4 linked regions of the Homo sapiens genome follow. The protein of the gene in region 1 purifies or fractionates together with the protein of each later gene. This does not show direct contact. Each region holds a gene or a part of one and is shown in the gene's direction. Other genes may lie near its edges.

What was found. Proteins that work in one complex are often made in the same cells at the same time.
Region 2: the proteins of PPP4R3A (region 1) and EHD2 purify together in Homo sapiens (affinity purification with mass spectrometry; one large-scale study listed by BioGRID and IntAct). This does not show direct contact.
Region 3: the proteins of PPP4R3A (region 1) and GDA purify together in Homo sapiens (affinity purification with mass spectrometry; one large-scale study listed by BioGRID and IntAct). This does not show direct contact.
Region 4: the proteins of PPP4R3A (region 1) and CPSF2 fractionate together in Homo sapiens (co-fractionation; one large-scale study listed by BioGRID). This does not show direct contact.

What each region holds. Positions count from the first base shown.
Region 1 is NC_000014.9:91,503,811-91,507,310, reverse strand, and holds part of PPP4R3A (serine/threonine-protein phosphatase 4 regulatory subunit 3A), read left to right. Parts: intron 1-3,500. UniProt on the Homo sapiens protein: Regulatory subunit of serine/threonine-protein phosphatase 4. May regulate the activity of PPP4C at centrosomal microtubule organizing centers.
Region 2 is NC_000019.10:47,726,922-47,730,421, forward strand, and holds part of EHD2 (EH domain-containing protein 2), read left to right. Parts: intron 1-2,002; exon of another isoform or gene 2,003-2,200; intron 2,201-2,491; exon of another isoform or gene 2,492-2,590; intron 2,591-3,500. UniProt on the Homo sapiens protein: ATP- and membrane-binding protein that controls membrane reorganization/tubulation upon ATP hydrolysis. Plays a role in membrane trafficking between the plasma membrane and endosomes. Important for the internalization of GLUT4.
Region 3 is NC_000009.12:72,243,440-72,246,939, forward strand, and holds part of GDA (guanine deaminase), read left to right. Parts: intron 1-1,708; coding exon 1,709-1,839; intron 1,840-3,500. UniProt on the Homo sapiens protein: Catalyzes the hydrolytic deamination of guanine, producing xanthine and ammonia.
Region 4 is NC_000014.9:92,166,969-92,169,806, forward strand, and holds part of CPSF2 (cleavage and polyadenylation specificity factor subunit 2), read left to right. Parts: 3' UTR 1-2,838. UniProt on the Homo sapiens protein: Component of the cleavage and polyadenylation specificity factor (CPSF) complex that play a key role in pre-mRNA 3'-end formation, recognizing the AAUAAA signal sequence and interacting with poly(A) polymerase and other factors to bring about cleavage and poly(A) addition.

The sequences.
Region 1 (3,500 bases):
TTGCTCTTGTCTCCCAGGCTGGAGTGCAATGGCACCATCGTGGCTCACTGCAACCTCCATCTCCTGAGTTCAAGCAATTCTCCTACCTCAGCCTCCTTAGTAGCTGGGACTATGGGCATGTGCCACTATGCCTGGCTAATTTTTTTGTATTTTTAGTAGAGACGGGGTTTCAACATTTTGGCCAGTCTGGTCTCGAACTCTGTACCTCAGGTGATCCACCCGCCTCGGCCTCCCAAAGTGCTAGGATTACAGGCGTGAGCCACTGCGCCGAACCTCCATTTATATTTTTACCATTTTGGAAATAGCCACAAATCTCTCTTCCTCCATTTTGCAGGTTGGAGGTTAAATGACTAAAACAAAATGACTTTAATTTTTATCTAGCAGGGAGAGCTTAACTAAATTACTGATGTGCCCTTGTAAATTTAGGCTGTAAGGAAAACTGAATGCAAAGAATGGACTTAGGCTGGGTGCGGTGGCTCACGCCTATAATCCCAGCATTTTGGGATGCCCAGGCCGACGGATTGTGTGGGCTCGGGAGTTCAAGACCAGCCTGGGCAACATGGCGAAACCCCATCTCTACAAAACATACAAACATTAGCTGGTGCGGTGGCACGGGCCTGTAGTCCTATCTGCTCTGGAGGCTGAGGTGGGAGGGTCACTTGAGCCTAGGAGGTGGAGGCTGCAGTGAGCTGTGATCATGCCACTGCACTGGGTGACAGAGGGAGACCCTGTCACACACAAACACACATACACACACACCATGGACTTAGAAAAAATTCCAGGATACTTGTGAAATACTGTCAGTAATCTTTAGTCGATGATTAACATTTCTTGTCACATCTAAATAGGGATAATAAGTCAAAATTTACTGACTACCTACTATGTGCCAAACTCTTTTAGCAGTTTACTTATATTGACTTACGTAATTCTTACAACAGTGTCTGATTTAGTGCTATTAACCATATTAAACTCCCATGTTACTGTCTACTTGCATTTGCTGCTTTATTAGCCTGAAGGTTTATTTCAAAGAAAATGAAAATTACTTTTAGCCTAAAGATATTTTCGGCCGGGCACAATGGCTCATGCCTGTAATCCCATCACTTAGGGAGGCCAAGGCGGGCAGATCACAAGGTCAGGAGATCGAGACCATCCTGGCTAATATGGTGAAACCCTGTCTCTACTAAAAACATACAAAAATGTAGCCAGGTGTGGTGGCGGGCGCCTGTAGTCCCAGCTGCTCAGGAGGCTGAGGCAGGAGAATGGTGTGAACACAGGAGGCGGAGCTTGCAGTGAGCCAAGATCAGCACCACTGCACTCCAGTCTGGGTGACAAAGCGAGACTCCGTCTCAAAAAAAAAAAAAATTTCAATTATAGTTTATCTACAAGCTTTACATGGATGTTTTTGTGTTGACTGCCAGTTGGGGTCAGCCATTATTGTGTGCTTGCTCCATTCTCCATCATAGGATAATTGATATTTTCTTTTTGTTGTCATGAGCAAAATGGAAAGTATTTCTGATTTTCCATAAATTGAGTCATTTGTCCAATAGAAACTTAAAATTATTGCGCTTTTCCATACTTGGGCTAGACCTAGTCATTATTGTGTTGAAGTTTTTCTTTTCTAAATTACTTGTAGCTTTTCCCCAAAAAAACTTTTGATTTTCAGATTATTTCTTTAGAACAAAATAAATATTTGATTCTTAACACTTTTCAAGTATTTATTGTCTGTAAAATTAAGTTTTTGTGATGTGTTAATCATCCACCTTAGAAATAGGCTATCAGCTAATTTGGTGGTCAGTGCTAGAGATAGTGTGATAGGGGCTTTTGCATACCTGTGAAATAAATGGTGTGTGTTTTTTTTTTTTTTTTAGGCAGAATCTCTGTCATCCTGGCTGGAGTGCAGTAGCATCATCTTGGCTCACTGCAACCTCCACCTTCCAGGTTCAAGGGATTCTCATGCTTCAAGCCTCAAGCCTGGGATTACAGGCGTCTGCCATCATGCATGGCTAATTTTTGTGTTTTTAGTAGGGACACGGTTTCACCATGTTGGCCAGGCTGGTCTTGAACTGCTGACATCAGGTGATCCGCCCTCCTCAGCCTCCCAAAGTGCTGGGATTACAGGCGTGAGCCACCACACCCGGCCGCGTTTCTTTTTTTTAATAAGTTCTCTCAGAAAGGATGACAACATGTCCAAAGTCATTCATCTATTAAGATGGTATGAGTTGGGATTCAAATTCAGGCAATTCATTTTAAACTGTACACACTACTTAGTAATGACAAAGCGTTTGGGAATTTTATAATGTATATAGTGTTAGCATGGGTATAGAAAGGCTGGGTAGTTTTAAAATTCTCTCATTATTGGGTCTATATTTGTGGACGGGGAAGCTATAATAATGCTATCTCAACTGTAGGCTCAGTTCTTGTTAGGGGAGCTTATATGCTCGTCTAAAAATCACAGAAGAGAATTTCTAAATGGAAGTACTTGTGGCCTTCATGTTACAGAGCAGATCTGTCATGGTAAGTACTGTATGCCTTCCCTTCCAAAACCGAGTAACTTGGCACTCAACCTACCTTGCTTTAGAGGAAAAGGGATGTCCCACTAAGCTTCTGGGCCCATTTCTTGGATTGCATCTTTATCCAGTAGGTTTCTGCTGGCAAAATAGGTTGTAAGAACACGTCCCTTTTGTTTTTTGTTTTCTTTTTTTTTTTTTGAGTCAGTGTTTCGCTCTTGTCACTTAGGCCGGAGTGCAATGGCACAATCTCGGCTCACTGCAACCTCCGCTTCCCGGGTTCAAGCGATTCTCCCGCCTCAGCCTTACGAGTAGCTGACATTACAGGTGCCTGCCACCACGCCTGGTGAATTTCTGTGTTTTTAGTAGAGACGAGGTTTCACCATGTTGGCCAGGCCGATCTCGAACTCCTGACCTCAGGTGAGCCACCGCACCCTGCTCTTTTTCTTTTCTTTTCTTTTCTTTTTTTTTTTTTTTTAATTTTTAAGAGCTCTGTTGCCCATGCTGTAGTGCAGTGGCAGGATCATAGCTCACTGTAACCTCAAACTTCTGGGCTCAGTTGATCTTCCCACCTAGCTGGGATTACAGGTGCACACCACTGTGCCTGGGTAATTAAAAAAAAATTTTTTTTTTCTTTTTTTTAAGAGATGGAAGGGGGTGGGTCTTACTTTGTCGCCCAGGCTGGTCTCGAACTCCTGGGCTCAGGCATGAGCCACCATGCCTGGTCCAATTTTTGAATTTTTTCAAAGGTTCTCACTGTATTGCCCAGAATGGTCTCGATCTCCAGATGTGAAGTGATCTTTCCCACTTGGCCGCCTAAAGTGCTGGGATTACACCGCACCTGGCCCATGCTTTTCTTTAAGGAAGATAGATTACCTTATTTCTCTCAGTTTTTATGATAGCCGTATACCTGCAAAGTTCCATCTTCCATTTCAGATTATTTTGTTTTTATTTTTAATTCTTTCAGTGTATGCTGTGTCTGTTAACTTGAAG
Region 2 (3,500 bases), on another chromosome or scaffold:
CCCCTTTTGGCCTCCCAAAGTGCTGGGATTGCAGGCATGAGTATGTTGAATTTTTGAACTTCCTATAAAATATAGACAGACAAATACTCATTATTCTACCCTCTTTATTTTTTGATAATTTATAAGATTGTGGTTCAAAGGTTTCCAAGTTCATTGGTTTATTCCACAAATATTTCTTTTTCTTCTTCTTTTCTTTTTTTGAGACGGAGTTTTGCTCTTATTGCCCAGGCTGGAGTGCAATGGCGTGATCTCGGCTCACCACAACCTCCGCCTCCTGAATTCAAGCGATTCTCCTGCCTCAGCCTCCCGAGTAGCTGGGATTACAGGCATTCACCACCATGCCCGGCTAATTGTGTATTTTTAGTAGAGTATTTTTAGTTGGTCAGGCTGGTCTTGAACTCTCAACCTCAGGTGATCCGCTCTCCTTGGCCTCCCAAAGTGCTGGGATTATAGGCGTGAGCCACCGCGCCAGGCCCACAAGTATTTCTGGAATGCTTTCTGTACACATGGTGCTGGGGCTGGGGATGGAGGGAACAGACAAGGTTCCAGCCCTCCTGGGGCTCATCTTTTTTTAAATTTAATTAATTAATTTATTTATAAGCTAGTCAAATTTAGCAGTGGGGGTGGGGAGTTGCATGCCAACTTTACTGACACTAATAAGTTCTGATAACCAAGGCCAGGTGCGGTGGCTCACGCCTGTAATCCCAACACTTTTGGAGGATTGCTTGAGCCCAGGCATTGAAGACCAGCTTGGGCAACATAGTGAGACACCATTTCTATTAAAAAAAAAAAAAAAAGTTCTGATAACCCACTACCATTGGACCAGCCCCGGGGCTTATCTTTTGATGGAGGGAGACAGAATAAGTAAACAGACATAAAATAACAATGAAGGCTGGGTGCGGTGGCTCACGCCTGTAATCCCAACACTTTGGGAGGCCGAGGGGGGAGCAGATCACTTGAGGTCAGGAGTTCGAGACCAGCCTGGTCAAGATGGTGAAACTGCGTCTCTACTAAAAATACAAAAATTAGCCAGGTGTGGTGGCGGGCACCTGTAATCCCAGCTACTTGGGAGGCTGAGGCATGAGAATCACTTGAACCCGGGAGGCAGAGGTTGCAGTGAGCTGAGATTGTACCACTGCACTCCAGCCTAGGCGACAGAACGAGACTCTGTCTCAAAATAAAAAAAAAAAAAAAGATGAATTTATTACATCTTAGGCGCTTCACAGCACCCGTCTCCCATGACTCTTGTTTGATTGTGGCCACAGATTGTCCCCTTCTCTCACTCCTTTCCTCTGTCCTCATCTCCCATTCCCTTCCCAGCGTCCCCTGCACTTCACGCTGGTGGCCTCAGTCCTGTGCACTTGCTGCTCCCTCTTCCTGGAAACCTCTTCTGCCTTCTTCCCCCTCCCACCTGGCCATCCACAAGGCTCACTCCCTCCTCACCCCTTTCAAGACTCTGCTCAAATGCTCCCTTCTCAGGAAGGCTGTCCATGCCCTCCTTTGAATGAATATAACTTCCCCCATATGCGTCCTTCTTTACCCTAACCCTGTTGTCCTTTCCTTTCCTTTCTTCTCCTCTCCTCTCCTTTCTCTCTTTCTCTGTTTCTCTTTCTCTCTTTCTTTCTCTTTCTCTTTCTTTTTCTTTCTTTCTTTTTTTTTTTTTTTGAGACAGGGTCTCCCTCTGTTGCCCAGGCTGGAGTGCAGTGGTGCGATATCAGCTCACTGCAACCTCCACCTCCCGGGTTCAAGCGATTCTCCTGCCTCAGCCTCCTGAGTAGCTGGGGTTACAGGCGTGTGCCACCACACCCAGCTAATTTTTTGTATTTTTAGTGGAGACGGGGTTTCACCATATTGGTCAGGCTGGTCTCGAACTCCCGACCTCAGGTGATCCGCCCGCCTTGGCCTCCCAAAGTGCTGGGATTACAGGCGTAAGCCACCACACCCAGCCAATCAGGGCTCTTTGAATTCCTTCACTGATTTATCCCCAGTGCCCGGAACAGAATTGGTGCTCTGTAAATATTTATTGAATGAATGACATTGAACAAACAGTTGCATTGAACAAAATCTCCTCTATGCCTGGCCTGGTGTTGGGTGGTGCAGGAGACACAACAGTGACCACGATGGTTCCAGTCCTGTCCTGCTGGGGCTCCCAGTCCTAAATAATGAAGGCAGTTCCAGGGCTCAGTCCTCACTGGGGCTCCTGGAGAGGAGACAGATCCATCCCCAGGCACCGATGACCCAGTGTGGTCAGAGCTGGGGCGGGGTAGCTGGGGCAGGCAGAGAGGGCTTCTTTGGAGGAGAGGGCATCTGAGGGGAAATGTCAGTGTTGAACCCAGTGTAGACAGTGTGCTAACTCAATTAGAGGCTGAGGATGTGGCTGAGATCAGAGGTGGTGTGGGCTGTGTCCGGGAATCTGTGCTTTGTCCCTAGGGCACTGGGGAGCCATGAAAAAGTTCGGAGCAGGGAAAGGAGATAATTAGACTCAAGCTACCTTTTGGAGGGTGGATTCAAGGCAGGAGAGTCTAGGAGCCTGGAGACCAGGCAAAAGGCTTGGAGGTTCCTGGATCAGGACAGGCCTTGGGGAGGGAGAGGAGAAAGGAGAGCGCGGGTTTCAGAGCGATTTTGGATGTCAGATGGAACTTTCTCAGGGGGAGGCTGCCAGGGTGGAGGCGGGGCAGGAAGCTGGGCAGGCAGGGAGGCCAAGAAGGTTCTAGGGGGTGGAGGAGCCTGAGGTGTTGGTTTAAGGAGCAGCGAGAGTGGGTGAGTCAGAGCCCCCACCCCCACCCCAGGAATCCTCCTTCGGAGGGAGCGGCCCACTGTGGACCAGGCTGCCACTCCTGGAACCTTCGGAATTCACCTTGCGCTCCTCTGCCCAGGCGGCTCTGCAGTGTCTCTCTCTCTCTTTTTCTGTCTCTATGTCAGTCTCCTTTCTACCTCTCTCTCAGTCTCTTTCTTCTCCATTTTTACTTTTTCTTTTATTCTAACTCCCTTTCCTTTTCTTTCTCGCTCTGCCTCCTCCTGTCTCTCCATCTCTCCCCCGCTCCGCCGCCGCCCTCTCTCTGTCTTCCTCCTGGTCTTGCTTAGACTCCCCCAGGTTCGTTCCCGCGGGTCCCTTGGCGGGAGCTGGAGCACAAGGCCCAGGGACAGAGGGGTGGGTCCGGGCCAGACACCTGGTGCCCCCGCCGGGCTGGGGGCGGCTCCGGAAACCCAGACAAACCCCGGAGTCAGGGACCCAGCCCCGGCCCAGCCCGCCCTCTCACCTTATCTCTTCCTGGCACCTTCCCCTGCTTCCTCTCTGGAAAAGCCATCAGCGCCCTCCCGCCTACCCTCCTTTGGTCCCTACGGAGCCGCCCTTCGGCCCTGCCCCCTGGCTCCATTGGCCCGCTCTCACAGGCCCCGCCCCCAGCCCGGCCACACCCCTGCCCTGATTGGTCCTTCAGACCATTAGGCACTCCCTCCCCCTCTTCCTGCAGGTTCATCCATGGCTCCCCAGTGCCGTT
Region 3 (3,500 bases), on another chromosome or scaffold:
AGTTTAATTCAGTTGAATTCAGTCATTAAAAACTCATACTTGACATGTTTCTTTGTCAAGGGCAAAAAGAAGTCAAGTAATCAGTGAAGGAGGAGAGAATTTCCAGTGATTTTCTGTTACATTCAGTCCTTTCCCATACAATTAGTAGAAGTCACCTGGCTCCTTTTAACATTTTGGATTATTTTCATACCCCTGTCTTGCTAAAGAGAGTACTTTAGCTAAAAAGCCATTTTTCTTTTCTGAGAATAAAAGAGTTGCCCTTTAAAGAATCTTTTAAGAACAAGTAAGATTTCTGAGTCAGTGTTTAGAGAAATGCCACAACTTCTGGATACCTATAGGTAGAAATATAATGTATTAGATATTGCCTAACAAAGGTAGTCGATTCAATATTTTCACATGAAACTTTATCTTAGCGGTGATAGAATGCAACAAATACATGTGAAAATTGAAATAAGGCTGAGCACAGTGGCTCACGCCTGTAATCCCAGCACTTTGGGAGTCCGAGGTGGGCAGTTCGCGAGGTTAGGAGATCGAGACCATCCTGGCTAACACGGTGAAACCCCATCTCTACTAAAAATACACAAAAAATTAGCCGGGCGTGGTGGTGGGTGCCTGTAGTCCTAGCTACTCGGGAGGCTGAGGCAGGAGAATGGTGTGAACCCAGGAGGCACAGCTTGCAGTGAGCTGAAATTGCGCCACTGCACTCCAGCCTAGGCGACAGAGCAAGACTCCGTCTCAAAAAAAAAAAAAAGAAAGAAAGAAAATTGAAATAAATAATACTGCACTCCAGTTAACCTTCCATGCTTCCATTTGTGACCCCAGTTTACACCTTCCTCAGATTACAGGCTTTAAGGAACTTTAGAGCCAATACCTCTGTTGGCGAAGAAAGCCAACTACCCCCATCTTTCTGAAACTAAATCATAATAATGAGAGATGTTCTTCCTTGATATCCAATAATCTTGGAACATGAATTGTAGCTATGAGATGAGCCAAGTCAATAGATATTATTGGCCTGTGCTCTATTTTAGAAGACCATTCTTCTCTGGTGACCAGAAAACCTTTGAGGTTGCAAAGAGATTGGTCTGTTTTCAAAAGCATTGAGACTTTTGAGTTATGAGAATCTGTTCATTTTGAGAAGTGAGGTTTTTTTTCCATTCAAAGGATTTAAACTAAGGAATTTCTGATGGATATGCCTGCATTGACAAATATGCAAAAGGATAATTATTTTTTATTTATTCAAGGTTCATTTCACTGCCATGAAAATAAATCTTGTCAGCTATTTCATGGAACAGAAAGAACAAAAAAAAGCAAGGCAAGGAGTTGGAGTGTTGGGGGAGAATAGAAGGGAAAAAGAATAAAGGTATTATGTTAATCATCATGTTGCTTAGAGGGATAAATGAAAAGCATAGACCAGCTGGGCTATGAAGTGCACTGATAGAGCTGAAATAGAGACATACCAGAGTTATGATACAGTAATGAAGGGAATTGTTTTCATTCTCAGATTTTGCTTTCCTGTGCTTACTCCACTTTATGTAAGTAGAAGTCTTGTGACCTGTTAGAATGAGAGTGATTTTCTGTCTCACTGTTAAGATACTAATTTTTTTTTTTCTCCTAGCGACATGTTGGCAAAATCTGTCCTTACAAACTGAGACATTAGTGTGGTCTGATGGCTTGCAATCCTGACTGTTTATTCACTTGTTCTCAATAGCCCTGGGGCTGGATGGTGAGATTGGAAACTTTGAAGTGGGCAAGGAATTTGATGCCATCCTGATCAACCCCAAAGCATCCGACTCTCCCATTGACCTGTTTTATGGGGACTTTTTTGGTGATATTTCTGAGGTAAGTAAAAGAAAGTTAATCAAAAGGCATTTATTTCATAAAGTCGTCATAATAGCTTCCCTGTAGAAAAGAAAATAGAAACCGAAACTTTTTAATGGAATGCAGGAAAATCTTAAAATGGACGCTAGAGCCCTTTGATAATTATTATAATTTTATGACAGCAATGTTAAGAATAATGGTGTTAACAAAACTTTTATATTTTGAATGTGTTTGTGTATTTGAATGTATTTGGCTACAAACAGCCATAATGTAACTAGCACTCATTGAACACTTGCTATGTGCTGGGTAGGCATGGGATTAGGCACTTCCATACCTAATTTTGTTCGATCATCAGAGCAACTCTAAGAGAGTAGGTACTATTAATATTGCCATGTTAATTTATAGGGGCAGTGAGGCTTAAGGAAGGCTAAGTGATTTACGTAAAGACTCATAGCCAGTGATTAGTAGGTAGAGTTTGGATTCACACCTGGGACTTTCTGACTACGAGAGGCGAGGCTCTTGAGCACTATGCTATGTCAATGTTTTTAATTTTATAAGAAAATGAACTTTGTTTCTCTTATTATAAAATGTTTTTCTATGGATAAAATAAACTAGTTCATCTTACCTGAAAAATAATTCCTTGTAAGATATTGAGTTCTTCCTAAAAAAAGAATTAAGTATTGCCATTTCTAAATTGATCTACTTGTGAGAGTAATTGCGATAATAAATATGTTAAAGATTTTAAAAGAAAAATTCTGTATTATATGAAGTTTGTACCATTTGTTATTATAAAAGAGGAAAAATATATTTTTCTCTACCCATCTTAGGGTCAAGGCTGAGGTCACTATAACAAGAGACAGATTTAACAGGAGAAAGGCATACACATTTATTTAATATAAATTTTTTTGAGACGGAGTTTTGCTCTTGTCGCCCAGGCTGGAGTGCAATGGCATGATCTCAGCTCACTGCAACCACTGCCTCCTGGGTTCAAGCAGCTCTCCTGTCTCAGCCTCCCAGGTAGCTGGGATTACAGGCGCCCACCACCACACCCACCTAATTTTTGTATTTTTGGTAGAGACAGGGTTTCACCATGTTGGCCAAGCTGGTCTTGAACTCCTGACCTCAGGTAATCCACCTGCCTTGGCCTCCCAAAGTGTTGGGATTATAGGCGTGAGCCACTGTACCCGGCCTATTTAATATAAATTTTATGTGACATAGGTGCCTTCATAAGGAAGTGAAGAACCCAAGAAACAGGTAAACTTGGATATTTTTATGCTAGGTTTGATGAAGAGTGGAAAGTTGTAGAGAAATATGATAGGACAAAGAGTGTGGTCCAGTGGTAATAAGCTAGAGAGAACTTAGCAAGGCCTGCTTGTTCAGATTCTTCTCTGTGATCCTTTAGCTTCAGAGATCAGGTATAGGGAGGGCACCCCTTACGTGATGGTCTTATGACCTGCATTGGGGTAAGGGGTAAGGGGAGGGTCAGAGTGACCTTCCTGTGTTTGATTTGAGGGTAGCGTGTCCTGACCCCCTCATTATTTTCATATTGCTTATTCTTTTACTCTCTGATTAGAGTAAATTTCTAAGAATAGGGCTCTAGGGAATAGTCCTAGTGATTTTTCTTATATCAGGGGTGTCCAAGGGAGTTCTTAGTTTCTGTTTCAGGTTGTGCCAGTAAAGCC
Region 4 (2,838 bases), 660 kb from region 1:
CATTTTCATGTGAGTTTAGATTCTGCTTATCGATTTCTTTTTTTTCTTTTTTTTTTTTTTTGAGATAGCATCTTGCTTTGTCACCCAGGCTGGAGTGCTATGGCTCAATCTCAGCTCACTGCAACCTCCGCCTCCTGGGTTCGAGAGATTCTCCTGCCTCAGCCTCCAGAGTAGTTAGGACTACAGGCGCGTGCCACCATGCCAGGCTAATTTTTGTATTTTTAATAGAGATGAGGTTTCATCATGCTGACCAGGCTGGTCTCGAACTCCTGACATCAAGTAACCCGGCTGCCTCAGCCTCCCAAAGTGCTGGGATTACAGTCGTGAGCCACCATACTCAGCCTAAGATTCAGCTTACCAATTTCTGCAAAAAAGCCCACTCATTTTTAATAGGAGGTAAAAAGCAGTTGACATTTATAACTTAGAGTCTTTTAATGTTAGTGCTGAAAGGGACTAGAGAGCTCATCTAATTCAACCCACTTATTTTAGTATTGAATGAATGACCCTGTACAAGGAAAGGGATTTGCTTGAGATCCACACAGCTGTTTAAAGGCAGAGTTGGGATTGGAACCAAGTCTTAGAGAATCCATTGTTGCTTCTACACTGCATTATTGCTTTGGTTCCCTAGTGTACATTCACTTTGCTTAGGAGTGATATGTTCAGTTTATCTTCTCTAAGAATGGCAGCTGTTATTTAGGACAGTGGCATGCTGAGAAATAGATTGATTTCTATTCTATACTGTGTCCAGTAAAGGTCGGGGGAGAAAGAGTAAATCTTATCTTCTTCTGTACTTTTCTTTGATTAATGTAAGAGTCTAGAGTTTTATCAGAAGATTATTGTCCTTTAAAATATTGATGGACTGATTATCACTTAAAGGGTATAAACAGTGGGTAGTAATTCAGTGATTGAGAGGTTAATTGCAGGTTTTTTTTTTTTTTTTTTCTGGTAACCATAGAATGAATGTAGAATGAATTTGGATTCAATAATGGGAACTAAGGTCAGGCGTGGTGGCTCACACCTGTAATCCCAGCACTTTGGGAGGCCGAGGCGGGTGGATCATCTGAGGTCAGGAGTTCCAGACCAGCCTGGCCAACATGGTGAAACCTCATCTCTACTAAAATTACGAAAAATTAGTCAGGTGTGGTGACGGGTGCCTATAATCCCAGCTACTTGGGAGGCTGAGGCAGTAGAATCGCTTGAACCCGGGATGCGGAAGTTGCAGTGAGCCAAGATCACGCCACTGTACTCCATCTTGGGCGACAGAGCGCAACTCTGTCTCCAAAAAAAAAAAAAAAAAAGGGCAGGGGGAGCGGCTAGAGAAGGAACATTCAAATCTTCCCACGTGGGCAAGTTCCAAGCAAATGTTTATTTTTTTACCTCCTCTTTGGTTTTTGTCTCACTTGAAGCACTTTGTGTTTATGGGAAAATACCAAAAATTACCAAAATTTAAAAACCCAGGGCTTTGCTGGAAGTGAGGGTATCTTCTTGGCTTTTCCCTTTTCCTCCCCACCACTATACGCACATGCACACACAGCTCTATTTTTTGGTGCTTTTCGTTCATTATTCACTCCATTTCATTTTAGCTCTTGAAGTCAAAATGGGATTCCAAAGAGCAAAATAGAAGTTTGGAGAGTTTGAAATCTCTCCTCGTGGCTGGACGCCGTGGCTCACACCTGTGATCCCAGCACTTTGGGAGGCCAAGGCAGGCATACTGCTTGAACTCAGGAGTTCAAGACCAGCCTGGGGAACATGGTAAAACCCTGTCTCTACAAAAAATAGAAAAATTAGCTGGGCATGGTGGCTGTAGTCCCAGCTATTTGGGAGGCTGAGGTGGGAGGATCACTTGAGCCTGGGGAGGTTGAGACTGCACTGAGTCTTGAATGAATGAATCCATCTCTCTTTCTCTCTCCATATAGTCAAAGAGAACCAAAAATGTATGTGCTTTTTTTGTGAAATTGTTAAGGATTCCATGATCCTACTAAAATTTTTGATAATGATAATTTCAAGTGGAGAATATATAAAGGACTCGTGAGGCCTTCCTACCTCATTTTCTGAGGTTATGTTGACTTTAATATCCAATGTATCATAGGTGTTTTCTTTTTTCTCTGACAATTGTTATGTTAAAAACAAAAAGAAGCACATACTGTACAGTCAAAACTATCAGACGTAACTCTGTGGGAAACTTTATTCCAAGGGTGCTGCCACTGCCCTTGTTTTAAATATTTTTGGAACTTCATTTCTCTTCAGGTCTATTTAATAAGCTTGTTAGGAATATTGTAAATTATTTTAGAAACACATTGTGGTCTCAGCCTCATGTGGCATTGCCACTTGTTACTACATGACCCCCCCACACCCCCTAAAAAAGAAAAAGGACTTTAAAAACCCTCTCAGGACAAACATTTGCTACCGTGGTTGATTTTTTAATTTTACATTAACTATTTAATATCAGACTATAACTAAAATACAAGTAGTGGAATTATACTTTTATAAAGTATCAAATTATGTAGATGATGACGAAGTTATAAGGTTACTATAATTTCCAACTTCACCCATAGGTCATGGTATAGTTGAAATTTCATATTTAAATATCAAAACATAAATGTCTAAAGAGATTGTGTAAATTCTTTATCAGTTATAAGGAAAAACCAAATTCAAATTCTTAAGGTTTTTCTTATATGTGATTTTTTTTTTTTTTTTTTTTTTGAGACAAACTTGCAGGGAGAGAATTATGTGGCATGAGGAGGATTGAGAATGTTGTTCATTTTATCTAATTACTGCCTATTAAGAAAAGCTTCACATTTATTTCAGCTATTCTATTGAATACTTTTACCTAAGATA